Regions from separate parts of the Homo sapiens genome. Here regions 1 and 3 are each linked to region 2. The links come from fine-mapping of genetic effects on plasma protein levels. A gene starts in region 2. Each other region holds a variant in brackets. All regions are shown on one strand. Distances are from middle to middle.

Region 1 (10,428 bases), 470 kb before region 2:
ACAGATGGGGTTTCACCATATTAGCCAGGCTGGTCTTGAACTCCTGACCTCAAGTGATCCACCTGCCTTGGCCTCCCAAATTGCTGGGATTCCGGGCATAAGCCACCATACCCGACCATATTTTTTAAATTTTTTTGTAGAGATTAGGTCTCACTTTGTTACCCAGGCTGGTCTTGAACTCCTGAACTCAAGCGATCCTCCCACCTCGGCCTCACAGGCGTGAGCCACTGTACCTGGCCTAATCCTGATAACACTTTTTTTTTTTTTTTTTTTTTTAAAAACAGAGTCTCATTTTGTCTCCGAGGCTGGAGTGCAGCAGCATGATCTTGGCTTACTGCAACCTCCGCCTCCTGGGTTCAAGCAATTCTCATGCCTCAGCCTCCCAAGTAGTTGGGATTACAGGCACCTGCCAACATGCTAATTTTTGTATTTTTAGTAGAGACAGGTTTAGCATGTTGGCCAGGCCGGTCTAGAACTCCTGGCCTCAAGTGATCCACCTACCTCAGCTTCCCAAAGTGCTGGGATTACAGGCGTGAACCACTGTGCCTGGACTTGATAACTCTTTTAAAACTCAGAAAAGTTCTCTGATGGAGAGATTTTAATATGCCTTTTATATCTATGGAAACTGAGGATAAAAAGGAAAAGCAAGTTGGCCAACATCTCCCAAATGGCCAGTCTGCCGTGGGAACCTGTGTTTGGATGACTCTGGAGCCCAATTTCTATCTTCTCCATATTGTTACCCAAACCTTCCTAAGAGGGTACAGAAATATTTTAAATTATCTTCTTTTGGTTTGGATCATCCCTTAACTATCTGGTGGCCAAGTCTTCTATGTTTCCTTCTAGCATTTGAGACGGAGTTGGCTTATCTCTCAGGAAATAGACTTACAGTGGATGAACAGGAGAAATCAATCATTTGTAGTGTATCTCCAAAGCAAGAGCTTTGTGCCTGGGATGTGCAAGAGGTGAGTCTGGCCAATATGTGGCAAAAGTACTGCATATTTGCATCCATCCTGTTCTATATATGAAACGGAAGTGCTGAGAGGAAAATATTCGGAAGTGGTAACAAAAACAAAGTGTCAAATCAGGTTTTCTATCATGTAATTTGTGACCTTTTCATTTGGACCATAGACACACATAGAATTCACTTTTGTTGTTGTTGTTATTTTTGTTTGTTTGTTTTTTGAGACTGAGTCTCGCTCTGTTCCCCAGGCTGGAGTGCAGTGGCAGGATCTCGGCTCACTGCAAGCTCCGCCTCCAGGGTTCACGCCATTCTCCTGCTTCAGCTTCCCAAGTAGCTGGGACTACAGGCGCCCGCCACCACGCCTGGCTAATTTTTTTGTATTTTTAGTACAGACAGGGTTTCACCATGTTAGCCAGGATGGTCTCGATCTCCTGACCTTGTGATCCGCCTACCTTGGGCTTCCAAAGTGCTGAGATTACAGGCGTGAGCCACTGCGCCCGGCCTTTTTTTTTTTTTTTTTTTTTTTTTTTGAGACAGTCTCACTGTGTTGCCCAGGCTGGAGTGTAGTGGCGCGATCTCAGCTCACTGCAACCTCCGCCTCCCGAGTTCAAGCGATTCTCGTGCCTCAGCCTCCTGAGTAGCTGAGATTACAGGCGCGCGCCACGATGCCCAGCTAATTTTTGTATTTTTAGTAGAGACGGGGTTTCGCCATGTTGGCCAGGCTGTTCTTGAACTTCTGGCCTCAAGTGATCTGCCAGCCTCAGCCTCCCAAAGTGCTGGGATTACAAGCATGAGCCACTGCACTTGGCTGAGAATTTACTTTTTAATATGTGTTTCTATATATAAATTTGTATAAGGTCTTATTTTCTACCAATAACATGGAATGCATTTATGAAATAATTTTTGGGCTTTCTGCATCTTTATTACCTGTTCTATTGCCTCTTTGTCAATGATTGGCATTTGTTATATTGGCTTTTTCAGAAAGTGGTCTCTAGCTCAGATGATCTCCAAGGCGTGCAAAGGATTTATCTCAAAACTGAGTGTGGCTTTTGTCTAATGGTATAAACTGCAGTGAGGTTCTTAGGAGACCCATAAAGTTTTTGTTGAAGAGAATTACACTGAGAGAAACACTGTCAGCTTGGATTTAAAGGGGCCAAAACACACAAAAGGAAAAGAGGCCTTTTGGATTTCAAAACTTTTACAGGCAGGAAGCAGACTACCAAAAACAATTTAGCTAAAAAATTGGGCCACCGCATAGAGAAAGCGAAGGATGACCCAGACAGAATCAAGAGCCTAGAGAGTAGAACCAAGAGTCATTAAAGATCTTTCTTGGGCCTTGAGTCCTAATTGACAAATTGCCAGCATGTTTTCTATTGGATTTCAAAATTTCTTGTAGCAGTGATTCCTATTTTTCCATTTTCACCTTTTCTGAATAACAGTGACTATGTTATCCTGCGCTTACCCCACACTTGTACTTTGGGGATAGTGAGGGACAGATAACTTGTATATTTAGTTTGAAGATTTTCACGTCAAGATAAATTGAATCTAAAGAGCTTCATCTATACCTGGACCTAGAAACAATGAGAGCCTAGATTCTGCAATGATACTACAATGGTATGAGACATTTGAGAGCATTGGGAGATGGTGGATATATTTTCATGTAGGGGGAAACTGAATCACTGGAGGCTGTGGGGCAGACTACAGCTGCCAATCTCTGAGATGGCCCAAATATTTTTGCCCCATGATAATCACGATCAATCTTGTGTAGTCCACTGCCACAGTCAATAGGGCTGACCTGTGCAACCAATAGGATATTGTGGAAATTATGGTGTATAATTTCTGAAGCTATGTCACAGAAGACAATTCTTCACTCATGGGTCATCAGCTCTTGGAGATCCAGCCACAGTGTTATGAGAGCTCTCAAGCAGCCCTCCAGAAAGATCTGTGTGGTGAGGGACTGAGGACCCCTGCCAGTAGCCAACACCAACTTACACAGCTATATGAGAGGCCATCTTGGAAGTGAAACTTGACTTCACCCTCATGAGAGACCTACAGCCAGAACTACCCAGTCAAGCTACCCCTGAATTTCTGATCAAAAGAAACAGAGTTAGCAAAAGCCTGTTTTAAGCCACTAAATTTTGGGATGCTTGGTTACATGGCCTTAGATATTACTGCATAGGCAACTTGTTATAGTGTGAAAAATCAAAATAATGATTACATTTGGGTGCGGAGAGCCATGGGGGAGTTGTTAAATAGAGCACATGCAAAGGGGACTTCAGGAGGGCTTAGAAGTGGTACATTGGTAATCACTTGTGATAATTTATTAAACTTCGTGCTCTTTTCTTATATGATATACTTTACAATTTTTTTAAAGGCTAAAGAATCATCTAGAAAGACAACTATTCTATCTTGTATGTAATGTACAAGGTTGAATAACAATTTTAATGATAGTTAATACATTTTGGGTTCCTACTGTGTCCTAGGCAGAATTCTAAGTATGTTTCATGAGATGTGAAAGGTAATGACAGCCTCATTAGAAGGCATGATAGAAAGTGACTTGCTGAAGGCTGCACTGTGAGTAGGAGGCAGAGGTGATTTGAACCTATGAAGTCTGATCATTCTTTGCGCCTGTTATGTACCAAGTTCTTGTCTCGGAGCATAATGTGTAGTTCCTGTTTTCATGTTCACTCCTCCAAAATATTGAGATGTGGAGAACTTTCATATCCTCTGCCCAGAAGCAAGAAGATCTGATTTGGAAGAGGCTTCCAAATAAACATGGGCAGAATGAAAGCACAGTAGGTGTAAGGGTTCCTTGAACACAGGTCGTGTTACTCTCGTTTTCTAGGGTACCATGATCTGGTCAAGCCCAGTCCAGGAGTTCCATTTCTCAAATCTGGTAACCCTCCCTCAGATGCATCTCGCCATCACTATGGATCGGAAAAAAACTATCAAAGTGTGGAACTGTCAGGACAGGGACGCTCTGGCTGTTCTCCCCATGCCACAGCCCTGTTATTGCATGGAAGCCTATCTTACAAAGGATGGCCCATTCCTGATGGTAAGTGAGCCCTGAATTTAGAGGGGACCAAAAAATCAAATGCCTGTTGTCTTGTCAGGCATCCGTGTCACATTACTGTCCTATCCCTTTTTTTTTTTTTTTTTTGGAGACAGAGTCTCACTCTGTTGCTCAGGCTGGAGTGCAGTGGTGCAATCTTGGCTCACTGCAACCTCTGCCTGCTGGGTTCAAGCAATTCTCCTGCCTCAGCCTCCTGAGTCGCTGAGACTACAGGCACACACCACCATGCCTGGCTAATTTTTTGTATTTTTAGTAGAAACTGACCAGGCTGGTCTTGAACTCCTGACCTCGTGATCTGCCCACCTCAGCCCCCCAAAGTGCTGGGATTACAGGCATAAGCCACAGCGCCTGGCCTATTTCTCTTGTCATCCCTTCCACATACCCTGCGAGTCAATCACAGTATATCAATGAATGTTATACAAACCTCCACACTATCTTGCCCCTTGACTTGCCTCAAGTACATTTCCCCAGCAATTCTTCTAAAGACAAAAAGCCAAAAACTTCCTGAATTACTTTATATGTGCCTTTTCTTTCAAGTGGTGTTATTGTCCAGTCCATGAACTTGGTTGGGGACAGTTGAGGGAGAAGAGATGGCTTTGGGGTGACATTGAGAAAAAGCATAGTGTTGATGTGCTAATGAATAACTGTCCTTGAGAAGAATGCTTTGGGGCTTGGAAAGTTTTATTCCATGGGATTATCCCAACAGTGTCTCAAGCTAGACTGGTCAGAGGTTTTGATCTCCATTATGTGATTGAAGAAACAGTGGCATATCTTGCAGCTCATAGTGCTGCCTCCTCTGTACTTCAGGATTTCACATATCTTCCTATTGATATGGTGGGGATGCTTTGGTTTCAGGTTGGCGATGCTGCAGGTGACATCTACACATTTACACTGCCTGGGTTAAGAGATGTTTCTAAAGTTACTGCATTTCAATATGGTATTGTACTTCTACACTGCTCTCCTGACAAGAAATGGGTATTTGCATGTGGGACATACAGTCGTACCTTGCCACAGGTAGGTGCTGTTCTGTGTATTTCAATTTCAGGATAGGAATGTCAAGTTAGGAAGCATGCAGAGAAACTGCAGAGCTCAGTGAGGACCAGGCACACTGCTCCTTCCTCTCTAAGACCACATCACAAGGGGAATCCATTGTGATGGTCAGGAAACAATGCTCTTTGAAGTAACAACATCCAGTTGCTGTGGCAAATGTTTAACAAAAACTCGTTCATGAAGCCCGAATTTGCCAAAGAGATGGAAGAGGGTGAGACAGGTATCAAGAAATAGGGATTGCTGGGCATGGTGGCATGCACCTATAGTCCCACTTACTCAGAAGGCTGAGGCGGGAGGATCACGTGAGCCCAGGAGTTCCAGGCCATAGTGTGCTATGCTGATAGGGTGTCCACACCAAGTCTGGCATCAATAC[G/A]TTCACCTCCTGGGAGCAGGGGACCACCAGGTTGCCTAAGGAGGGGCCAACTGGCCCAGGTCAGAAACAGAAAAGGTCAAAACTCCCATACTGATCAGTAGTGGGAATGCACCTGTGAATAGTCACTGCACTCCAGCCTGGGCAACATGGCGAGACCCTACCTCTTAAAAAAAAAAAAAAATTTTTTTTTTTTTTTACAAAAATATCTTTGTCCTTGTTCTCTTTTGCCTTCTTTACTTTTATCTATGTTGGCTGCAAAGTGTAGAGAAGTCCAAAAGTAACTGAATATGCAACAGCCTCTGAATATCACTCTGAGGAAGGCTTTGGCCTTTGAGCAGGCCATTTGTAGTGGGGCACTGGTGGACTGGGCACCAAAGAGGGAGGAGTTCAGAAGGCAGGTAGTAAAAGCCACACAGCCCTTGACTTGTTCCCCAAGAAGGGAAAATCTGCTTAGCCAACCTCAACTTGACCAAGGGTTCAACATGGCAAGATGGTTTCATAACACCTTAGCATGCTTCAGGGACATTGTTCTGTGAATGGGACAGGAAGAATAGGAAGACAGTGAGTTCCTTTTATGCTGGAGTGATAAGCAGTGACCACTCATCACTCCTGAGATATTGAACAAAGCTTTGGCCACAAGATGAGAATTTCTAAGAAGGCTCTTCTGGAGTCACTCCTGTACTGAGAGGCTATAAGTTCCCTGCCCCTGACCATGCATGCGATGCTCTCTTTAGGTATTCCTCACAGAGTCCTTACTGAGACCATCAGAAGGCAGTGTTCCTCTGTCTACCTTTCTCCCACATAAATTATGTGCCAGCGCCTGCTGGACCCCAAAGGTGAAAAACAGGATAACACTGATGTCCCAAAGTAGCACTGGAAAAAAGACAGAATTTATCACCTTTGATCTAACAACCAAGAAGACTGGAGGCCAAACAGTCATCCAAGGTAGGCTGTGCCACATTAGAAACGCTTGTTTCTCTTCCTCATCACACAGTCATTCGTGTTTAGCTCTAATAAATGGGTCAGCCTGTATAAAGTGAGCAGGGGATTTCTAGTTTTTTTTTTTTTTTTTTGAGACGGAGTCTTGCTCTGTTGCCCAGGCTGGAGTGCAGCGGCACAATCTCGGCTCACTGCAAGCTCCACCTCCTGGGTTCACGACATTCTCCCGCCTCAGCCTCCCGAGTAGCTGGGACTACAGGTGCCCGCCACCATACCCGGCTAATTTTTTGTATTTTTAGTAGAGACAGGGTTTCACCCTGTTAGCCAGGATGGTCTCAATCTCCTGACCTCATGATCCGCCTGCCTCGGCCTCCCAAAGTGCTGGGATTACAGGAGTGAGCCATCGCACCCGGCCAGGAGCAGGGGATTTCTTTAGCTGGGGGTGAACCCATCCCAGTTCGACTCTAATACCCATGCTGATCTCTACCCCCACCCTGCTCTCTTGGGCGAACACATATAGATTTCCATCATATTTTAGGGCCTGGGTTCCAATGCCCAGGGGATTGTTTATTGTCCACAAACCTCTGTTCCTGTGTCCTAGCACCTGTTACCACAGTCAGTGATATGTATTTGTCAGGCCACTGGACTACCCTTCATTTTCTTCCCCGGAATGAAGTCTGTGGAAGTGGGGACTATGCTTTTTTATTCAGTGTGAGGATATTATTATTCAATGACCTGATCTTTACTTCCTTATGTGTGTGTGTATATATATGTGCGTTTTACATGAAAACAGCATATGAGATCGCAAGTTTCCAGGTGGCAGCTCATCTGAAGTGCCCTATCTGGATGGGAGCCAGTGATGGATATATGATTGTCTTTACCAGTGGACCATACTTGTTACTCTTCAGCATCACTGGCTTCCTGCTGCAACGATTTGAGGACCATCAGGCAGCCATCAACAACTTCTGGGTGGTATGTATGATTCTCCTCCACTGCTTTTTGATCTGACTTTGACTCCTTGGCCACTCACTCTGGCTATCCTTGGAAGGATCCTTGCTATGTGCTCACCACATCCGAGAACTCTGTGCACGTGTACATGTGGGAAGAAGGAGGCCGCCATCCATACCTCAGGAGCTGCTGTCACCTGGAAAACACGTGGCATGATCACACAACAGACAGGTAAGCTCTGTTTTGTGATGTAAACATCCCCTAAACAACTTTTTTTTTTTGAGACGGAGTCTCCCTATGTCACCAGGCTGTAGTGCAGTGGCGTGATCTCAACTCACTGCAACCTCCGACTCCCGGGTTCTAGCAATTCTCCTGCTTCAGCCTCCCAAGTAGCTGGGATTACAGGCATGTGCCACCACACCTGGCTAATTTTTGTATTTTTAGTAGAGACTGGGTTTCCCCATGTTGGCCAGGATGGTCTCGATCTCCTGGTCTCGTGATCCGCCCGCCTTGGCCTCCCAAAGTGCTGGATTACAGGCGTGAGCCACCGCACCCTGCCGAAAACTTCTAATTTCTACATCAAGATGAATGAAGGGAAAACAGGGGTTTTTTTTTTTAAGGTTCTCTGAGGATAGATATCAATAAACTCATGCCTGAAAAGAGAATCGCTAGTTCTTGAAGTCATGGGACTTGCAATAGATGTTAAGTCTTCCCAAAGTGGCTCTCAATTTATATTCCCATGAGCAGTGGATAGATTATGTCCCAATACCCTGTGTTTTCTTGCTGAGTTGTACCTTTTGTGAGTTCATTAGCCACTTGCTTGCTGCTTCAGTGAGCTGCCTTTCCCTCCATTTTGCTGATTTTTGCCCCTGGTTTGCTTGCCTTTAAATTGTTTTTCTTGAGATTTTACGTAGTACACGTAGAAGTCTTGTCTCTTAAGGCTTTGCACACATTTTCTTCCAGATTATTGCTAGTCATTATACTGCTTATAGTGCTTTTTTGGCAACATCTAAGAAAATACATATATCCTTTGCACTGCCAACACCACTAAAAAGAATTTACTGTGAAGCTATACCTCCAATCATTCAAGTACATTGGCTGTTCATTACAGCATTTGTGATAGTCAAGAGCTGGAAGCTCCCTAAGTGTCCAAACATAAGAGATTGTTTAAATTACCATCGTATATCCACACAAGGAAGTATCAGGCAGCTGTTATTAACTTTTTTACAAGAATAGGAAAATGTCTATGTTCAGATAATGATTTCCAGTGTTTTGAGGCAAAAATACTTTAAATATCTATAAGCATGCTTAGCAGACTTTCATGGTTTTTGCTCTGTATATCATATCTAATAAATTTTAGCCTACACCAATCATAAATACTTATTTCCTTTCAATAATTTCAAATACTTCCCCTGGATTTTTTTTCTTTCTTACATTTGAATGGATGTATAGTGATACCTCATTGTGATATTTATTGTGCCTTTTCCCAATAACATTGAGCAATTTATTTGCCATCCACATTATCTTCTTTAACACATTTTTTCAAATCTTTTGACCATTTTTTAATTGGGTTGTTAATATTGAGTTTCTTAATATCGAGTTTTGATAGTCCTTTATATATTTGGAATACACGTCTTTTATCAGATAAGGGTTTGCAAATATTTTCTCCCACTCTGGTTTGTCTTTCTATTCTCTTCACAGTGTCTTTCAAAGAGCAAGGGTTAACTTTGAAGTACAATTTTTCTTCTAAAATGACTGGGCTTGGGGGATTGTATCTATGAAATCTTTGCCTAACCCAAGATCACAGAGATGTTCTAAGATTTCCTCTAAAAGTTTTACAGTTTAGGGTTTTACATTTAGGTCTCTGATGTATTTTGAGTTAAATTTTGTAAGGGAAAGATAAAGATCAAGATGTATTTTTTTGTATATGAATATTCAGTGATTCAGCACCATTTGTTGAAAAAACTCCTTACTCCGTTGAATTGCCTGTGTACCTTTGTCCAAAATCAACCATATTTACATGGGTTAGTTTTGAGACTTTCTCTTTTGTTCCAATCATCTATATATGTATCTCTTATCAAATAACACACTACATTGAAAATGTAACTTTATAGAGACTTTGAAATCAGATAATGTGAGTCCTCTAACTTGTTCTTTTACAAAATTATTCAGACTATTCTGGTTCCCTTGTTTTCCAAGTGAATTTTAGAATTGGTTTGTAAATTTTTACAAAAATTCTGAGATTTATATTGGAATTTGTTTAGATGTAGAGATTAATTAGGGGAATTGGCATCTTTACTATTTTGGCTCTTTCAGTACATGAACCTGAATGTCTCTTACTGTTTTAGGCCATCTTTATTTTATCAGTGTTTTTGTAGTTTTTAGGATAAATATTTTGCACATATTTGTAAAATTTATACCTAAATATTTCGTGGTTTTGGTGCTATTATAAAGAGTACTGTCTTATTTCAATTTCCATTTTTCATTACTAGTATATAGAAATACGACTGACTTTTGTATATTGACCTTGTATCCCGCAACCTTGCTAAACTCATTCATTCTAATAGCTTTTATTCATAGATTGGTAGATACTTTGTGCTTTCTCTATGTAGACAATCATGTCGTCTGTCAAACAGTTTTCTTTCTTTTCAAATGTATGCCTTGTTGTTCTTCCCTTTTTGCATTGGCTATAACCTCCTGTGTGGCACTGGAGTGGAGAGCCGACATCCTTCCATTGGATGAAAAGTGTTTGGTCTTTCACCATTATTATTATATTCACTGTATGTTTTTGTAGATGCCCCTTACTGGGTTGAAAATGTTCTCTTCTAGTCCTAGATGGCTGAGAGGTTTTTGTTGTCATGAATAGATGTTGAATTTTCTCAAAGACATTTTCTGTATAAATTGATATAAGCATATAGTTTTTCTTTTTTAGGTTCTTAGTAAGGTGAATTATATTGATTTTCTTTTTTGTTAGTGGTCAGGACAGAGTATCTTATTAGTTTTTAATTAACAAATAATTATATATTTATGGGGTACAATGTGATTTCATAGATGTATATATTGTAGAATGATTAAATCAAGCTA
Region 2 (10,216 bases):
AAAGTCTGGAAACAACAGGTGCTGGAGAGGATGTGGAGAAATAGGAACACTTTTACACTGTTGGTGGGACTGTAAACTAGTTCAACCATTGTGGAAGTCAGTGTGGCGATTCCTCAGGGATCTAGAACTAGAAATACCATTTGACCCAGCCATCCCATTACTGGGTATATACCCAAAGGACTATAAATCATGCTGCTATAAAGGCACATGCACACGTATGTTTATTGCAGCACTATTCACAATAGCAAAGACTTGGAACCAACCCAAATGTCCAACAATGATAGACTGGATTAAGAAAATGTGGCACATATACACCATGGAATACTATGCAGCCATAAAAAATGATGAGTTCATGTCCTTTGTAGGGACATGGATGAAATTGGAAACCATCATTCTCAGTAAACTATCGCAAGGACAAAAAACCAAACACCGCATGTTCTCACTCACAGATGGGAATTGAACAATGAGAACACATGGACACAGGAAGGGGAACATCACACTCTGGGGACTGTTGTGGGGTGGGGGGAGGGATAGCATTAGGAGATATACCTAATGCTAAATGACGAGTTAATGGGTGCAGCACACCAGCATGGCACATGTATACATATGTAACTAACCTGCACATTGTGCACATGTACCCTAAAACTTAAAGTATAATAAAAAAGAAAAAAAACTTGTAAACTTTTACTCATCTGAGGCTAATTTCTAAAATCCTAAAGTGTTGTGTAAATAAAAATTGTCTCAAAGCAGGTTACTGCTTTGTGATTTACAGAGATGACAGTGAAACAAACCTGAAATAAAGCTTTTAAAAACAAATTTGTCCCTGGAAGATTGTTGTCACTGTCCTCAACTTAAAGATAAGAAAATCTGAGATCAAACAGGTTTGAGAATTTGTCCAAGACCACAAAGCAAACCTGTGGCAGAGTTTAGAAAATAATTTCTGATTTCCCAAAAACCCATGATGTAATGTGCAATAAATCAAGGGAAACCCAGAAGAGCCCTTGTTACTCCTTTAGCATGAATACACTTAGGGAGATTGCCCAGTGCACTGAAGCTTGTGACCTCCCACAGCAATGACCGTTAATTAACTCCTTCCCTGCCGTGACTTGAATACTGGGCCAGACCAGATACAACTCAGAACTAGTTTTGTGTGTGTGTGATCTAATAACACTAAGATCCTAACTTGGCCTCTCAAATGGTTTCATTGTTTTGTTAAATTTTAGTTGTTCAAAAGTAGGCCAATTCTACTGTTAAATTGACAAAGCATATGTTGAAGCAACCAAGGAAACTGTAATAGCTTCTTAACACTCTTGCGTAGATCAGATGTAGAAAGTGTTATTTTGGACAGGAGCAGTAGCTCATGCCTGTAATCCTAGCACTTTGGGAGGCCAAGGCAGGAGCATTACTTGAGGCCAGGAGTTCAAGACCAGCCTGGGCAACACAGGGAGACCCCGTCTCTATAAAACACTTAAAATTAGTAAGGCATGGTGGCACATGCCCTTAGTCCCAGCTACTTGGGAGGCCCAGGTGGGAGGATACCTTGAGCTTGTGAGGTTGGGGTTGCAGTGAGCCCTGATTGTGCCACTACACCCCAGCCTGGGTGACAGAGCGAGATCCTGACTTTAAAAAAAAAAAAAGGTGTGATGATCTTGGATCACCAAATCTGTGAGGGGAGGGACAGTCTCCAACTTGTTTCCTGCTCGGTCCTTATTGCGTACTCTTGGAGTTTATTGCAAACTCTTGGAGAAGGTTTACTATTACTAAATGATAAATCCTGACACAGCAAGTAGAGCCAATGAAGCTGCTCTCCTGATCTCAGTCTCTGCTGGGATCCTTTCCTTTAAAGCTACAACCCACCCACTAAACAAGAATATAGTTACTGGGTTTTTCCTTTTTCTTTTTTTTTTTTTTTGAGACGGAGTTCGCTCTGTCGCCCAGGCTGGAGTGCAGTGGCATGATCTTGGCTCACTGCAACCTCCGCCTCCCAGGTTCAAGCGATTCTCCCTGCCTCAGCCTCCCAAGTAGCTGGGACTACAGACGCCCGCCACCACGCCCGGCTAATTTTTGTATTTTTAGTAGAGACGGGGTTTCGCCATGTTGGCCAGGCTGGTCTCGAACTCCTGACCTCAGGTGATCCACCCGCCTCGGCCTCCCAAAGTGCTGGGACTACAGGCGTGACCCACCACGCCCGGCCAGGTTTTTCGTTTTCAAAAATGAGGTAGGGTGTCTATTTTGCCCAGGCTGGTCTCGAACTCTTGGATTCAAGCGATATTTCCTCCTCAGCCTCCAGAGTAGCTGGTATAGACTATAGGGGCCCACTGCCCCGGCCGGCAAGATAATTATTTACTCTCACCAAATTTGATTCAATCGTTTTGGCCAAGTTTTTAAAAATAGGAATATTCCCAGGGACCATGTTTGAAGAAATACAAACTCAAGTAAGCAGAGGTGAAATGACCTGAGAGATTTGCTTTAATACACTTCGGCAAAGAAAGAAAAAAGGTATGGATGAAACTTTGTGACAAACGCAACTGTTAAATGTAGGTGATGGCATATAGGGATTCATCTCACCTTTCCTCTTTTGTCTATGCTTAAAAGTTTTCACAGTAACTTTTCAAAAAAAATTATTATTTCCAAACAAACTTACTGTCCTATCAATTAAACACAAGTCACTGGATGAGAACGCTGTTGTCTTCGAAGCCAAAACTGGTGAAGGGTCTTAAGCAAAGGCGAGGGATCCTCTAGCAGGGCCGACAGCGCGCACGTTTCCTTCAAGGCTGGATCTGACAAATCACTCGGTGCGCTCTAGGGCTCGCAGGATCGCGGAGCTCAATTTGGAAGTGGCGCACGCGGGCTCACGCCGGTGTCTCAGGGAAACGCTAGAAACGCGGCTACAGAGCTCCCAATCCCAGCCTGCGGTCGGCTTGGCTGCGGCGCGACACCTGGCTCCCTGCCACCCCTCTAGACCTCTGGAGACCTCCTGCACCACTCCCCAGGGCCCCGCCCACAGCCTACCTTCCAAGTCCTCGTCCTCCTCCGACTCGCTGTCCCCTTTGGCGTCGGCGACACGGTCCGGGCCGGGTTCTGGCGGGGGGTGGCCCAGGCTCTGGCGTGGGGTGGCGGCGGGCAGGACTGAGGCTGGGGCGCGGGCCTCGCGCAGGCGGGTGAAGTACTCCACTGCGAATTCGACGAGGTCAGGCGGCTGCTGTCGCAGCACCTCCACCGTGTAGCCCTGCAGCAGCTCCGTGAGCCCCGGCGGGATCTGGATGTGGCTCATGCCGGCGGCGGCCGAAGGGATAGACGGGTTGGGCCGCCGGCGGCCACTGTCTCCGCGCTCACTCACGCCGGCCTTTCGCTCCGCGCCCGCGAGGTCTCTTCGCGCACGGCCCCGGCTCACGTCGCGCCGCTCTTTGGCCGGCTCTGCGTTTCCGGGCCGCGCAACCCTACGCTACCACGGCCGACCTGGCACCGCCGCCGCTGTCACTGGGCAGCCGCCGCCGCCGCGGGGACCGACGGGCAGGCGAGCTGGACGGGCGGGGCAGGCGTCCTGGTTGTGACGCACGCCACCGCGGGCGTGCGCGTCCCCGCTTAGCACCGGCCCTCAGTGCGCTTGCGCCACTAGATGACCCGCCCCCTCGGGCTGTCGGGGGGTCGAGACAGTGGAGTGTTCCTGATGCCAGCTCACGGAGGGAATCCAGGGAATTAGGTAATGAACGGTCTACCCATGAAGGGGACCGATTAGTGCCTCTCGCCTGGTCCTGAAGACCTTTAAATTATTCTTTCAGCTGATGCCAAGAGCCTCTTTTTGGCCAGCACTTACTAAGCACCAGAGACACAGCGAGAAGCAGAAGCATACGAGCACATCAGTGTGATTCTGCTGTGATGAAGGGCAAGAGAGGGCTCACTTTCCGGCGTGACATTCAAGCTAGCCCCGAGGCCTGAGCAGGACCCGCCCAGGGGAAGATCTGGAGGAAAGCCATCTGAACATACAACAAGAGCAAAGGCCTGGTGGAGTCAAGACCACCTTGGCTGCCAGGTGGAATGGTGGAATAACTCAGGAGTCTGTCAGGTCTCTGAGATGTCAAACGGGTAAGGCCTTGTAGGAAGTAGGCGTTTGAATGAGATCATAATTTGAGAGCCACAGACAGAAAAATAAATTTGAAAGAGTTCACTCAGCCAAATGTGTACAGTGAGAAAGGGAAATAAGGCCAAAAGCAGCAAAGACCTCTGTGCCTGTTCCTCCTGGAGCACTTTCACCAGGGTCCCCAGATCTAGGTCTGCCCATTCCTCTCCCCACATTCTACACTGGGCCCTAGGTCAACACTGCTTGATGAAGTTGAGCAGACCACAGGCATTGTTATCCTTTGCCCCTGGGAAGATGGTATAGGTGAACTGTAGAGGCCAGACTATTTCCCAAATTGCCCTCCTCCTCCTACCAAACTGGAAGGGTATTGAAAAAGGTGGAGACCTTCCTGGGATGTCCAGTCTACAGCCTACGTGCTAACCAAAGGCCCACTGGGCATAGAGCAGAGTCCCCCTCTCCTTACAGGCCTAGCCAGGAAGAGAGTAGCTGTAGGTTTGGGAACCTGAGGGCATTTGGGATGCTTAAACACCGCCTGGTAATTACTCAGTATTAATTAAAATCCTCCCTATCACCTCCCATACAGGCTTGGCACACACCCAGGAGCTCAATGCTGCTGGGAGCTGAGCAGCTGGGAGCAAGGAGCCCTCATCCCCACTGATGAAGAGGCCAGCCCAGGTTCTAGGCTAAGCAGGCCTGTGATTATAAACAGCAGTGTCTCCCTGGACAAGTTTCTTGACCCTGAGAAGAATGTTAGACCATCAACTTTGTGAGGGGACAGGCAGTCTCCAACTTTTTTCCTGCTCAGTCCTTATTGCATACTCTTGGAGAAGGTCTACTGACTTGTTCTCAGATGCCCCACGGCTCAGCCAACCACCCATCCAGCAGAGCATTCAAAAGGCATCTGGAAGGAATGAGGGCGACCGTTCTGCCAGGCCCCTATTTTTTTTTGAGAGGAGTCTCACTCTGTCGCCCAGGCTGGAGTGCAATGGCATGACCTCTGCTCACTGCAAGCTCTGCCTCCCAGGTTCAAGCGATTCTCCTGTCTCAGCCTCCCAAGTAGCTGGTACTACAGGCGTGCACCACCACACCCAGCAAATTTTTTCTATTTTTAGTAGAGATGGGGTTTCTCCATGTTGGCCAGGATGGTCTCAATCTCTTGACCTCGTGATCCACCCGCCTCAGCCTCCCAAAGTGCTGGGATTACAGGCGTGAGCCACCGCACCTGGCTTTTTTTTTTTCTTTTAGATGGAGTCTTCCTTTTGTCGCCCAAGGTGGAGTGCAATGGCACGATCTCAGCTCACTGCAACCTCCACCTCCCAGGTTCAAGCAATTCTCCTGCATCAGCCTCCTGTGTAGCTGGGATTATAGGCACCTGCCACCATGCCCAGTTAATTTTTGTATTTTCAGTAGAGACGGGGTTTTGCCATGTTGGCCAGGATGGTCTCGAACTCCTGACCTAGGGATCTGCCCGCCTTAGCCTCCCAAAGTTCTGGGATTACAGGCGTGAGGCACTGCACCTGGCCATTTTGTTTGTTTGGGTTTGTTTTTGAGATGGAGTCTTGCTCTGTTGCCCAGGCTGGAGTGCAGTGGCATGATCTCGGCCCATTGCAAGCTCCACCTCCCGGGTTCATGCCATTCTCCTGCCTCAGCCTCCAGAGTAGCTGGGACTACAGGCGTGCGCCACCATGCCCAGCTAATTTTTTGTATTTTTTAGTAGAGACGGGGTTTCACCATGTTAGCCAGGATGGTCTGGATTTCCTGACCTCATGATCCGCCTGCCTTGGCCTCCCAAAGTGCTGGGATTACAGGCGTGAGCCACCACGCCTGGCCTGTTTGTTTTTTTGAGACACAGTCTTACTCTGTTGCCCAGGCTGGAGTGCAGTGACGCGATCTCGGCTCACTGCAACCTCCACCTCCCAGGTTCAAGCGATTCTCGTGTCTCAGCCTCCCAAGTAGCTGGGATTATAGGTGCGCACCACCACGCCCGGCTTATTTTTTGTATTTTTAGTGCAGATGGGGTTTCACCATATTGGCCAGGCTGGTCTTGAACTCCTGACCTCAGGTGATCCGCCTGCCTCAGCTTCCCAAAATGCTGGGATTACCAGCATGAGTCACCACGCCCGGCCAAGAAAGACCCATATTTTGTTTTGTTTTCTTTTTTGAGATGGAGTCTTGCTCTGTCGCTCAGGCTGGAGTGCAGTGGCGCAATCTCTGCTCACTGCAACCTCCACCTCCTGGGTTCAAGCCATTCTCCTGCCTCAGCCTCCCGAGTAGCTGGGACTACAGGCGCACACCACCACGCCTGGCTAATTTTTGTATTTTTAGTACAGACAGGGCCAGACTGGTCACGAACTCCTGACCTCAGGCGATCCACCCGCCTCAGCCTTCCAAAGTGCTGGAATTATAGGTGTGAGCCATCGCACCTGGCCACCAGACCCCCATTAACTTCAGTAGGGATGGCACCAGGTTTGAGAGGCCAAAAGAGATCCAGAGCCAGCAAACAAGACTTAGGTTTGATTGAGGGGAATTTGCATACAGAGCAGTCCAGTGGAGGTGGGCTAGATAGGAGAACTGCCCCACCTGCAGAAAGTATGCAGTATATATAGCATTTTCACTTAACACCCTCCCCCTAACAACTTTGATTTAACCCAAAACAAAGGGGCTAAATCCCCTGTACATCCACAGGACAGAATGGGGGCTCAGATATTCCTCATGGGTAAGTAATGAATCTCTGGCTTGTCCTCACTTGGAACTCCTAACACATTCAGGTGCATCTGCCATACAGGGTCATTCTCAGAGTATGCTTAAGTTATTGCTGTCAGGTGCAGCTACCATACACAGGTGTGTCTGCCATATAGCCACAGAAAGCAGGAGTCCTACAGCTGCTCCTCATGGGTCTCCATAGACTAGTCTTAGAGCAAGGATGGGCAGCCAGCCTCCAGGTTTAACCTGGCACTCTCCCCCAGCACTTGGTCCCCAGAGCAGGGGTGCATCTCTCCCACTTCTGGTCAACCCTTCAGTAACAAGTAGAGCCCCCAGGGTCTTCATGAATATCTAGTTGAACTGGCTAAAGAAGAGGGCCCTGTAACAGGACAGAACACCAGGAGCCTGAACCCCGCATCTTCTACCCTTATCCTGCATTTATCCTGCCTGCATTCAAGCCTGTCCAGCTGCACCACTGGAGGTTACCATGGCAACTAAACCCAGAGGCAGCCGGTAACTGAGATACAGCTGCCAAGAGCAACTGATGGTGGAAAAGGCCAACAGCAGAGACTCTTAGAAGGAAGAGAAGTACACAGGAGGAGGCCCCAGAACCCTGAGGGTGCTACACTCAAATCTAATCCTACTCACAACTCAGCAGGCAGTCAACGTCTTGCACAAACTGCCATATCACCAACCAGAGGCACAGATATGGACACAATGGGGCCAATTTGCAGAGATGTTTGCAACTATGGATGCAGAGTAGCACAGGTGGGACACATGTTGTTTAGCCCAAAAGCAACGGGTCTTGGTGAAAACGAAAATGGGTAGGGTACCATTGCTGTTTCCAATGAAACAATGAATTTTGTGTGCTCTTGATAGGTTTGTTATTCAAACGTTTCTGTCTGTCTCTCCAAGATGAAGAGAGGGGCCTAAACTTCCCCGAACTCCTCTGAAGGCCTGCTCTTGGCTCAGATCCTCCAGCTTAAATACCTTATGCCCTCTGCATACTTGCAGGACTCAGGTCCAGCAGGAAAACCTCCCTCTTACTTGATCAAGGGACCACTTTTCTAAGCCATTCCAGTCCCCCACCCATTTCCTGGGATCCGCTGGTCACCTGACCACCTCTACATGCCAGGCCCTCCTGGATTTAGTACTCCCAGCTCACTTAGTTCCTACAAGCAACAGCTTCTATGTTGCCTTAGAAGTGTTCATGAGCCTTTAGTTGGCAAGAGAGATTGAGGAAGTGGGCTATGTTTTCTCGGCCCTTACCCAAGCTGTCTTTCAGCCTCTACTGTGGCTCCTCCAGCGAGGCCATTGCCTTTTGCCCAGGAAATCTAATCTGTTTTAACAAGTGCCCATGCTCCAGGGAGCAGTTAGCTCCCAGGCCACGTTTGTGTACCTGTGAGCCATCCCCACGCCTGAGACACTATGTCCTGAGAAAATGTCAGTCTCTGCAGTGGACCCAGGGTCTGCATCTGAGACACCTCAGGGCAAGGACAGAACCTAGAAAGCACAGGGAAGCTGGCTAGAAAATCACAGGTCTGCATGCTTACCATAGCAGAGAAAGCAGAAAAGGGACCCCTCAGGGACACCTGGCCCTGGGGCCTTCCCAGTGCTGTCAGGACTCTGTGTGCCACTCCTGATCTGACTCACAGGCCAAGTACCTAAGCTTGGACCAGGTGGTACAGACAGGTCTCCTGGAGCCTGGATCAAGCCTCTGATAGCATCACAAGTCTTTCTTCAGGAGACCCAGACAATCCCCACTTTATTATCAATTTGCCAATGACCTTTGCAGATCAGTTTACCCTGTCTGAGCCTTGGCATCCACATCTGAAAGTGGAAGTCAAAATCCCTACTCAGAGGCTTGGTGCAGTGGCTCATGCCTGTAATCGCAGCACTTTGGGAGGCCAAGGCAGGCAGATCACCTGAGGTCAGGAGTTTGAGACCAGCTTGGCCAACATGGTAAAACCCCATCTCTACCAAAAAATACAAAAATTAAGGCCAGGTGTAGTGGCTCACACCTGTAATCCCAACACTTTGGGAGGCCGAGGTGGGTGGGTGACTTGAGGTCAGGAGTTCAGGACCAGCCTGGCCAAAATGGCGAAACCCCATCTCTACTAAAAATACAAAAATTAGCTGGGCGTGGTGGTATGCACCTGTAATCGCAGCTACTCGGGAGGCTGAGGCAGGAGAATCACTTGAACCTGGAAGGCAGAGGTTGCAGTGAGCCAAGATCCAGCATCGTGCCACTGCACTCCGGCCTGGGTGAAAGAGGGAGACTCCATCTCAAAAAAAAAAAAAAAAAAAAATCCCTACCCATTAAACATTGAGTTACAAGGGGATAAAGAAATAAGAGAATAAACTTATAAGGAGGTTACAAAAGATGTAAGGGGTTCCAGCCTCAAAAGGCTGTAAGGAGGCTGGGCACGGTGGCTCATGCCTATAATCCCAGCACTTTGGGAGGCTAAGGCAGGCGGATCGCCTGAGGTCAGGAGTTCGTGACCAGCCTGGCCCCGTCTGTACTGAAAATACAAAAATTAGCCACGCGTGGTGGTGTGCACCTGTAGTCCCAGCTACTCGGGAGGCTGAGGCAGGAGAATCACTTGAACCCAAGAGGCGGAGGTTGCAGTGAGCTGAGATCGCTCCACTGCCTCCAGCCTGGGTGACAGAGCAAGACTCTGTCTCAAAAAAAAAAAAAAAGGCTGTAGGGAAACAACTGTGGGGTAGAGATAGTATGACTTTATAGCTGAAATGGTGCTACTGTGCTTTTAACAATCACTGTTGCAACAACCTGTGCTCCTTCCCTCACCTTTGGCCCAGTTATATGCTTCTTGATGCCTGGGTGAGGCTTTTATCACCAATTGGTTGTTTAAAAAAATCACTGTCTGGCTCCCAGTTGTGACTGTCTGTGAAAGAGAAATTGCTAGGGAGGCCCCAATTTTCCCCTACTCCTTACCCCTGTCAGGAAGAGAAGAGATATATCAGGAACAGGTGGCATTTCAAAGTGCATCATAAAAAGGAAGCACCAGCCAGGAGGGAGTTACTCAACATCTGCTCTGCTCCCATCACAAATATGCCTCCAGGGGCTTCCCTATTTGACTTAACATCTATTGAACACCCAAAGGACTAAAATAATCTACCATCACTAACATCAAAGAACCAAAATACTCCATTTTAAAATGGAAAATTTTTCAAAGGGCAAATTATCCAGAGGCACAGACTGTAAAAGTGATCCTAAGCCATGGGAATGGCTGGCATTTGGCTGAAATGCAAATACATTTACAGGGGCTTCTAGGCAAAAGCTGAGGTTTTTGAATAGTCTCAGCCGGGTGTGGTGGCTCACACCTGTAATCCTAGCACTTTGGGAGGCTGAGGTGGGTGGATCACTTGAGGTCAGGAGTTCAACACCAGCTTGACCAACATGAGGAAACC
Region 3 (9,241 bases), 480 kb after region 2:
ATCTCAAAAAAAAAAGAGATCCAGAAACAAGGCCTCAAGCACCACTATTCAACCACTGAGGTATGTTCATTTTCCTAGCAAACACTAGTCAGTGTCCAACAGAAAGCACCTGCAGACAGTGACCAGCAGGTGGGACAATTCACATAACTCACTTTTCTGACGATGGGTTGCTGGCCTTCTACACAGCCGTACCAGTTTAGTAGTTTATTCCACGCCTCGGTAGGGACCAATACATAGTCCAATTCATCAATTAAGTGTTCTTTCAAGGTCTGACTCTCAGGATCTAAAAAAGGAAAAGAGCACATAAGTCACTGCTCTTTACCCCAGAAATGATGGTTTTACATGATTTCCATGTACTTTTCAGAAATAAGAAAATTATTTACAGAAAGAAACAGGAATGAAATTCCAAAATTCTGTCACTGGTCATTATACAGAGCAGACTTTTGTCTTTATCCATGTTTTCTCTTTATCCATGAAGATTTTATGAGGAATTTGTATTTCTTCTATAATTGGAGGGAGAGAAGAGGATAAAAAAGAAAAACTCCAGGCTGGGTGTGGTGGCTCACACCTGTAATCAGCACTTTCGGAGGCTGAGGCGGTTGGATCATGAGGTCAGGAGTTTGAGAGCAGCCTGGCCAACATGGTGAAACCCCGTCTCTACTAAAAATATAAAAATTAGCCGGGTGTGGTAGCGGGCACCTGTAGTCCCAGCTACTCGGGAGGCTGAGGCAGGAGAATTGCTTGAACCCGGGAGGCAGAGGTTGCAGTAAGCCAAGATCACGCCACTGCACTCCAGCCTGGTGAAAGAGCAAGACTCCATCTCAAAAATAAATAAATCATACATGAGGTGGTTATGGTTTCCCACCATCCCTCCGACTAGTTTACACACCTTTTTCAGGGCAGGGTTCCTTTGTTGTCATTTCAACAATGCTCATAACATCTTCACCAGACATAGATTCCATCTCAAGAAACCATTTTCTTTGCTCACCCATAAGAAGCAACTCCTCAGCCATTCAAGTTTTATCATAAGATTAAAGCAATTCAGGCCGGGCATGTTGGCTCATGCCTGTAATTCCAGCACTTTGGGAGGCTGAGGCAGGCAGATCACTTGAGGTCAGGAATTCAAGATCAGCCTGGCCAACATGGTGAAACCCCATTTCTAGTAAAAATACAAAAATTAGCTGGGCATGGTGATGCATGCCTGTAGTCCCAGCTACTCGGGAGGCTGAGGCATAAGAATTGCTTGAACCCAGGAGGTGGAGACTGCAGTGAGCCGAGATACCCCACTGTACTCCAGCCTGGGTGACAGAGCAAGACTCTGTCTCAAAAGAAATAAAAATAAATAAAAATTAAAATTAAAAATAGGCCAGGCGCAGTGGCTCACACCTGTAATCCCAGCACTTTCGGAGGCCGAGGTGGGCAGATCATGAGGTCAGGAGTTCAAGACCAGCCTGGCCAGGGTAGTGAAACCCCGTCTCTACTACAAACACAAAAATTAGCTGGGCATGGTGGTGCACACCTGTAGCCCAGCTACTTGGGAGGCTGAGGCAGGAGAATTGTTTGAACCCAGGAGGCGGAGGTTGCAGTGAGCCAAGATTGCGCCACTGCACTCCAGCCTGGGTGACACAGCGAAACTCCATCTCAAAAAAAATAAAAATAAAAGTAAAAATAAAAAATAAAGCAATTCAGTCACATCTTCAGGCTTCACTTCTAATTCTAGTTCTCTTGCTATTTCCACTTTTGCTGTTACTTCTCCCACTGATGTCTTGAGCCCGTTGAAGTCATCCGTAAGTGTTGGAATGAACTTCTTCCAGACTCCTATTAATGTTGATTTTGACCTCCCATGAATCATGAATATTTTTGTGTGTGTGTGTGGGCAGGTGGGAGTGGCAGGCCTTACTCTATCACCCAGGCTGAAGTGCAGTGGCATGATTACAGCTCACTGCAGCTTCGACCTCCCAGACTCAAGCAATCCTCCTGCCTTAGTCTCCCAAGTAGCTAGAACTACAGGTGCATGCCACCAGGCCTAGCTAATTTTCGTATTTTTTATAGGGATGGGGTTTTGCCAAGTTGCCCACCCTAGTCTCCAATTCCTGGGTTCAAAGGATCCACCTACTTCAGCCTGCCAAAGTCCTGGGATTATAGGTATAAGCCACTGCACCAGGTGGAATCATGAATATTCTTAATGGCATCTAGAATGGTAAATCCTTTCCAAAAGGTTTTCAATTTAATTTGCCCAGATCCTTCAGGAGAATCACTATCTATGGCAGATAAAGTCTTATAAAATGTATTTCTTAAATAATAAGACTTGAAAGTTGAAATCAAATCAGGCACGCTGGCTCAGGCCTGTAATCCCAGCACTTCGGCAGGCTGAGGCGGGAGGATCACTTGAGGTCAGAAGTTTGAGACCAGCCTGGCCAACATGGTGAAACCTGGTCTCTACTAAAAATACAAAAATTAGCCAGGTGGAGGGACGGGCACCTGTATCCCAGCTACTCAGGAGGCTGAGGCAGGAGAATTACTTGAACCTGGTAGGAGGAGGCAGGAGAATTGCTTGAACCTGGGAGGGAGAGGTTGCAGGGAGCCAAGACTGAGCCACTGCACTCCAGCCTGGGCAACAGAGTGAGACTCTGTCTCAAAACAAACAAACAAACAAACAAACAAACAAAAAAAGTTGAAATTACTTCTTGACTCACAGGCTGCAGAACGGATGTTTTTAGTAGGCATGAAACAACATTAATCTCCTCATGCATCTCCATCAGAGCTCTTGGGTAACTAGGTACATTGCAATGGAGCAGTAACTTTTTTTTTTTTGAGACAGTCTCGCTGTGTCCCCCAGGCTGGAGTGCAGTGGCGCCATCTCGGCTCACTGCAAGCTCCACCTCTCGGGTTCATGCTATTCTCCCGCCTCAGCCTCCCGAGGAGCTGGGACTACAGGCACCCGCCACCACACCCGGTTAATTTTGTTTTTGTATTTTTAATAGAGACAGGGTTTCACCATGTTAGCCAGGATGGTCTCAATCTCCTGACCTCGTGATCCGCCCACCTTGGCCTCCCAAAGTGCTGGGATAACAGGCGTAAGCCACTGCACCTGGCAGCAGTAACATTTTGATAAGATTAGCTCAGTGCTTTTTCTGAGCAGTAGGTCTCAACCCTGAGCTAAAAATATTGGGAGGCTGGAGGCTGGAGGCCGGAGGCCGGGCGCGGTGGCTCCCACCTGTAATCCCAGCACTTTGAGAGGCCGAGATGGGTGGATCACGAGATCAGGAGATTGAGACCATCCTGGCCAACATGGTGAAACCCCGTCTCTACTAAAAATACAAAAAAAGTAGCCGGGTGTGGTGGCAGGCACCAGGCGCCTGTGATCCCAGCTACTCAGGAGGCTGAGGCAGGAGAATCGTGTGAACCCGGGAGGCGGAGCTTGCAGTGAGCCGAGATCGCGCCACTGCACTCCAGTCTGGGTGACAGAGCAAGACTCCGTCTCAAAAAAAAAAAAAATATTGGGAGGCCGGGCGTGGTGGCTCACACCTGTACTCCCAGCACTTGGGGAGGCCGTGGTGGGCAGTTACCTGAGGTCGAGAGTTCGAGACCAGCCTGACCAACAAGGAGAAACCCCGTCTCTACTAAAAAAACAAAATTAGCTGGGCGTGGTGGCGCACGCCTATAATCCCAGCTACTCAGGAGGCTGAGGCAGGAGAATCGCTTGAACCTGGGAGGCAGAGGTTGTGGTGAGCCAAGATCGCACCATTGCACTCCAGCCTGGGCAAAAGAGCAAAACTCCGACTCAAAAAAAAAAAAATCGGTAAACTTGTTGTGGTGGCTCATGCCTGTAATCCCAGCACTTAGGGAGGTCAAGGCGGGTGGATCACTTGAGGCCAGGAGTTTGAGACCAGCCTGGCCAAAATAGCAAAACCCCATCTCTACTAAAAGTACAAAAATTAGCCAGAACTGGTGGTGCATGTCTGTAATCTCAGCTACTTGGGAGGCTGAGCCATGAGAATAACTTGAACCCGGGAAGCAGAGGTTGCAGTAAGCCGAGATTGCACCACTGCATTCCAGCCTGGGCGACACAGCGAGATTCTGTCCCAGAAAAATAAAATAAAAACAAAAATATTCGGTATACCATGCTGTAAATAAATATGCTATCATGCAGGCTTTGTTGTTGCATGTGTAGGGCACAGGCAGAGCAGATTTAGCATAATTCTTGAGGGCCTTGGGATTTTTGGAATGATAAATGAGCACTAGCTTCAAACTAAAGTCACCATCTGCAGTATCCCTTAAGAAGAGAGTCAGCCTGTCCTTCAAGGCTCTGAATCTGGCCGGACAGAGTGGCTCATGCCTATAATCCCAGCACTTTGAGAAGTCAAGGCAGACAGATCACTTGAGCCCAGGAGTTGGAGACCAGCCCGGGCAACACGGCAAAATCCCATCTCTACAAAAAAAAAAAAAAAATACAAAGCTGGGCACAGTGGCTCACACCTGTAATTCCAGCACTTTGGGAGGTCAAGGCGGGTGGACCACCTGAGGTCAGGAGTTCGAGACCAGGCTGGCCAACGTGCTGAAATCCCGTCTTTACTAAAAATACAAAAAAAAATTAGCTGGGTGTGGTGGCAGGTACCTGTAATCCCAGCTACTTGGGAGGCTGAGGCAGGAGAATCACTTGAAACTGGGAGGTGGAGGTTGCAGTGAGCCAAGATTGTGCCATTGCACTTCAGCCTAGACGACAGAGCGAGACTCTGTCTTACAAAACAAACAAACAAACAAACATATAAAAATCAGCCAGGCATGGTGGCAAGCAACTGTAGTCCTAGCTACTCAGGAGGCTGAGGTGGGAGGATCACTTGAGCCCAGGAGGTTAAGGCTGCAGTGAGCTGTGATCACACACTACAGCCTGGGTGACAGGGCAAGACCCTGTCTCAAAAAAAAAAAAGGCTCTGAACCCAGGCACTGACTTTTCCCCTCTAGCAGCAAAGAGGTAGATGGCATCTTCCCAATAGAAGGGTGTTTTGTCTACATTTAAAATCTGTTGTTTAGGCCAGGCACAGTAGCTCATGCTTGTAATCCCAGCACTTTGAGAGGCCGAGGCAGGCGGATCACTTAAGGTCAGGAGTTTGAGACCAGCCTGGCCAACATGGTGAAACCCCATGGTGAGACTCTGTCTCAAAAAAATAATAATAATAAATAAAAATAAAATAAAATAAAACCTGTTGTTTAGCCTGGGCACAGTGACTCACACCTGTAATCCCAGCACTCTGGGACGTCAAGGCGGGAGGATTGCT[T/C]GAGCCCAGGAATTCAAGATCAACCTGAACAACATGACAAAACCCACAAAAAATCTCTGCAAAAAATACAATAATTAGTCGAGTGTGGTGGGGCCTGTAGTTCCAGTTACTCAGGAGGCTGAGATGGGAGGATCACCTGAGCCTGGGAAGGTCAAGGTTGTAGTGAGGTGTGATTGTGCTACTGCACGAGGTAGCAGTAGCTACCTTTTTTTTTTTTGAGACAAGATGGCACCTTGTCTCAAAAAAAAAAATAAATGAATAAACTTTCTCCATATCAGCAATAATAAGGCTGTTTCAGCCTCTTATAATTCATGTGTTCACTAGAGTAGCACTTTTTTTTTTTTTTTTTGAGATGGAGTCTCACTTCTGTCGCCCAAGCTGGAGTGGAGTGCAGTGGCGCAATCTCAGCTCACTGAAACCACCATTTCCTGGGTTCCTCCATCTCCCAGGCAACATGACAAAACTCCATCTCTACAAAAAGAAAAAATAAACACATACAAAAATGAGCCAGGAATGCTGGCAAGCACCTGTAGTCCTAGCTACTCAGGAGGCTGAGGTGGAAGGATCACTTAAGTCCAGGAGGTTTACATTTACATTCACAACTTGGCTAGCTATATGGCACAAGAGGCCTAGCTTACAACCTATTTCGGCTTCCTTAACCAAACTCAAATCATTTCTAGCTTTGATTTGAAGTGAGAGACATGCAATTCTCCTTTTCACTTGAACATTTAGAAGACGTTGTTAGGGTTACTAAGTGGCCGAATTTCAGTGTCATTGTGTCTCAGGCAATAGCAAAGCCTGAGGAGAGAGAGAGAGATGGAATGGCTGGTTGGTGAAGCAGCGAGAATACACACAATAATTACCAATTAAGTTCACTGTCTTACATGGGCTCCCTTCATGATGCCCCAAAACAATTACAATAGCAACATGAAAGATCCCTGTTGGCTGGGCATGGTGGCTCATGCCTGTAATCCCAGCACTTTGGGAGGCTGAGGTCGGGAGTTCAAGACCAGCCTGACCAACATGGAGAAACCCCATCTCTACTAAAAATACAAAATTAGCCGGGCGTGGTGGCACATGCCTGTAATCCTAGCTACTCGGGAGGCTGAGGCAGGAGAATCACTTGAACCCAAGAGGTGGAGGTTGCCATGAGCCACGATCATGCCACTGCACTCCTGCCTGGGCAACAAGAGCAAAACTCCGTCTCAAAAAAAAAAAGAAAGCTCCCTGATCACTGATCACCATAACAAATAATAATGAAAAACTTTGAAGTATTTTGAGAATTACCAAAATGTGGTAACAGAGACATGAAGTGAGCACATGCTGTTGTAAAAATGGAACTGACAGATTGTCAAGGCAGCGTTGCCAAATACCTACAAAATTTGCTAAAAATGCAGTATCTGCAACATATAATAAAGCAAAGCACAATAAGCCAAAGTATGCCTGAATTTAAAACCTTAAGAATTCTCCATTTCATAAAAATGAGAAAAAGAACAAAATGTGAACATAATGAAATGATTCCTTAGGGCAACTTCGTGGCATAGTGCCACCATTTGACCTATTTCAGGAAACAAAGTAAATGATATTGTTTATACCATGTAGACCTCTCCTAAAACAAGGTCTGAGCTGAAGCATTGCTCAGTTTTAAAAATATCCAAGTTAGGCCAGGCACAGTGGCTCACACCAACACTCTGGGAAGCCAAGGTGGGAGGATGGCTTGAGGCCAGGAGTTCAACCAGCCTGGGCAACATAGCAAGACCCCGTCTCTACCAAAAAACTTAAAAAACAGCTGAGAGTGGTAGAACACTGTAGTCTCAGTGACTAAGGAGGCTGAGGCAGGAAGATAGCTTGAGCCCAGGAGCTCAAGGCCAGCCTAGCCAACATGGTAGAGACGGGGTTTCACCATGTTGGCCAGGCTGGTCTCGAACTCCTGACCTCAGGTGATCCACCTGCCTTGGCCTCCCAAAGTGCTGAGATTACAGGCGTGAGACACCACTCCTGGCACTGCCCTGATTTTTGACACCCATGACAGATCACCTCTATCATGACTTTAAAGAGGTCTGAAGTCAGGCAAAAGAAAGCCTGGGAAAAGCTGACTCTGTCATCTCAGTGCATGTACAAGTGCAAGCAAGCTCTAGTGTGTTACATGTCGCTTTTCCCACAGTTCCCATTGGGAGCTGACTACAGTCATAACTCTGTCTACTGACCTTCAACCTCTCCTCACACTAGTTATATGATAAAAACAGCCATCACAGGAATTCTTGATGAAAGTTCACAGGTTTACAATTTGTTCCACTGCAAAGGTAACAAAAAATTCTGGTTCTTAAATTTTAGATACAATTTCAAAATGACATCCTATTTCTTTCCATTCCATATACTAACTTAAAATGTGAAATAGCTAGCAGAACTAATTTGCAAAGAGAGAAAGTTAAAATGTTAGAAGCATACTCTTATCAGATGCAGTTAATTTAAGGGAAAAAAGTAGCTTAACTTCTCATTAAGGGTTTGCAAAGACTTCTGCTATAGATGCAAAATGAGGATACTTGTTTCTATCTCCTCACACTAGGAAAGTTCACAACGTCCATGTTACAGATGCACATAACATCAGGCCACTGCCCAGGTGAATGTTTAGCTAGAAAAGCAACATTTACTATACCTGAAAATAGCCCAGAGTTGTCTATTGGGCCAGGAAATAGGTTATGTTCACCCACATTGTACATGTCCCAGCTGTCAAAGCCCACATACTTCTTCCACTGCTTGAACCACCGGCTGTCAATAAGATACCTAGAGAGAGACAGAAATTTACTGTAGCAGAAAAGCTGAGATTATAAATTTCTGCAGCTGCTTCCTTAATCTTTTTTATGGTCCTTCCACTTGGGGCATATGCAATACCCACTAAAAAACACTGTCACAAGAGCAAGAGCAGGGCCCAGGCCCCACATGGCACAGAGAGTCTGGCCCAGGGTATGCATCCATTAAGTGAAATGATTGTTCAAAGAGTGAATAAAAGAAAGAAAACAAGTGGTTTCAAAATGCTTATTTAAATGCAGTCTTTCTTTTTTTTTCTTTTAGACGGAGTCTTGTTCTGTCGCCCAGGCTGGAGTATAGTGACACAATCTTGGCTCACTGCAACCTCTGCCTCCCAGGTTCAAGCGATTCTCCTGCCTCAGCCTCCTGACTAACTGGGATTACAGGCACCTGTCACCACTCCCAGCTAATTTTTGTATTTTTAGTAGAGACGGGGTTTCACCATGTTGGGCAGGCTGGTCTCAAACTCCTGACCTCAGGTGATCCGCCTACTTCGGCCTCCCAAAGTGCTGGGATTACAGGCATGAGCCACTGCACCTGGCCTCTTTTTTTTTTTTTTTTTTTTTTGAGACGGAGTTTTCGCTCTTGTTGCCCAAGCTGGAGTGCAGTGGTATGATCTTGGCTCACTACAACCTCCACCTCCTGGGTTCAAGCAATTCTCCTGCCTCAGCCTCCCAAGTAGCTGGGATTACAGGCATGCATCACCAGGCCCAGCTAATTTTTTTGTATTTTTAGTAGAGATGGAGTTTCACCATGTTGGCCAGGCTGGTCTCGAACTCCTGATCTCAGGTGATCCTCCTGCCTTGGCCTCCCAAAGTGCTGTGATTACATGCATGAGCTACCACACTCAGTCTAAATGGAGTCTTTTCATGGGTAAAATCATGTTTGCTAATAAACAAGTCATTAACTTCTTTTTTTTTTGAGACAGAGTTTCGCTCTTGTTACCCAGGCTGGAGTGCAATGGTGTGATCTCGGCTCTCCGCAACCTCCGCCTCCCGGGTTCAAGTGATTCTCCTGCCTCAGTCTCCCGTAGCTGGGATTACAGGTGTGTGCCACCACACCTGGCTAATTTTGTATTTTTAGTAGAGACAGGGTTTCTCCATGTTGGTCAGGACAGTCTCAAACTCCCTACCTCAGGTAATCTGCCCACCTCG

Which allele goes with the higher level. Positions count from the first base shown, and alleles are read on the strand shown. Strength reflects both the effect of a copy and how common the allele is.
For the plasma level of the protein whose gene starts at base 3,552 in region 2, A is the low allele of the variant in region 1 and G is the other (moderate association).
For the plasma level of the protein whose gene starts at base 3,552 in region 2, T is the high allele of the variant in region 3 and C is the other (moderate association).

What was found. PIP is the posterior inclusion probability: the model's chance that the variant is causal. Protein levels are from antibody-based Olink assays in UK Biobank. Linkage for the fine-mapping came from a reference panel and not from the study's own genotypes, which makes the PIPs less certain.
Region 1: its variant is fine-mapped to the plasma level of the PRKAR2A protein (UK Biobank, PIP above 0.99).
Region 3: its variant is fine-mapped to the plasma level of the PRKAR2A protein (UK Biobank, PIP 0.97).

Annotation. Positions count from the first base shown.
Region 1 is chr3:48,374,511-48,384,938 of GRCh38, forward strand. It overlaps FBXW12 (F-box and WD repeat domain containing 12), which reads left to right. Exons shown (of 11, transcript NM_207102.2): 5 at 844-962; 6 at 3,807-4,016; 7 at 4,890-5,048; 8 at 6,192-6,402; 9 at 7,190-7,368; 10 at 7,445-7,575. It also overlaps the pseudogene RN7SL321P. Among named protein-coding and RNA genes, the nearest start is that of FBXW12, 7.5 kb to the left of the region's middle. The variant G/A (reference allele first, on the strand shown) is at 5,458.
Region 2 is chr3:48,844,323-48,854,538 of GRCh38, forward strand. It overlaps PRKAR2A (protein kinase cAMP-dependent type II regulatory subunit alpha), which reads right to left and starts at 3,552. Exons shown (of 11, transcript NM_004157.4): 1 at 3,013-3,552. The coding sequence starts at 3,274. It overlaps PRKAR2A-AS1 (PRKAR2A antisense RNA 1), which reads left to right and starts at 3,615. Exons shown (of 3, transcript NR_109997.1): 1 at 3,615-3,703; 2 at 3,783-4,086; 3 at 4,665-7,660. RefSeq lists a silencer at 3,365-3,694.
Region 3 is chr3:49,327,534-49,336,774 of GRCh38, forward strand. It overlaps USP4 (ubiquitin specific peptidase 4), which reads right to left. Exons shown (of 22, transcript NM_003363.4): 2 at 7,936-8,063; 3 at 153-283. Among named protein-coding and RNA genes, the nearest start is that of USP4, 7.9 kb to the right of the region's middle. The variant T/C (reference allele first, on the strand shown) is at 5,280.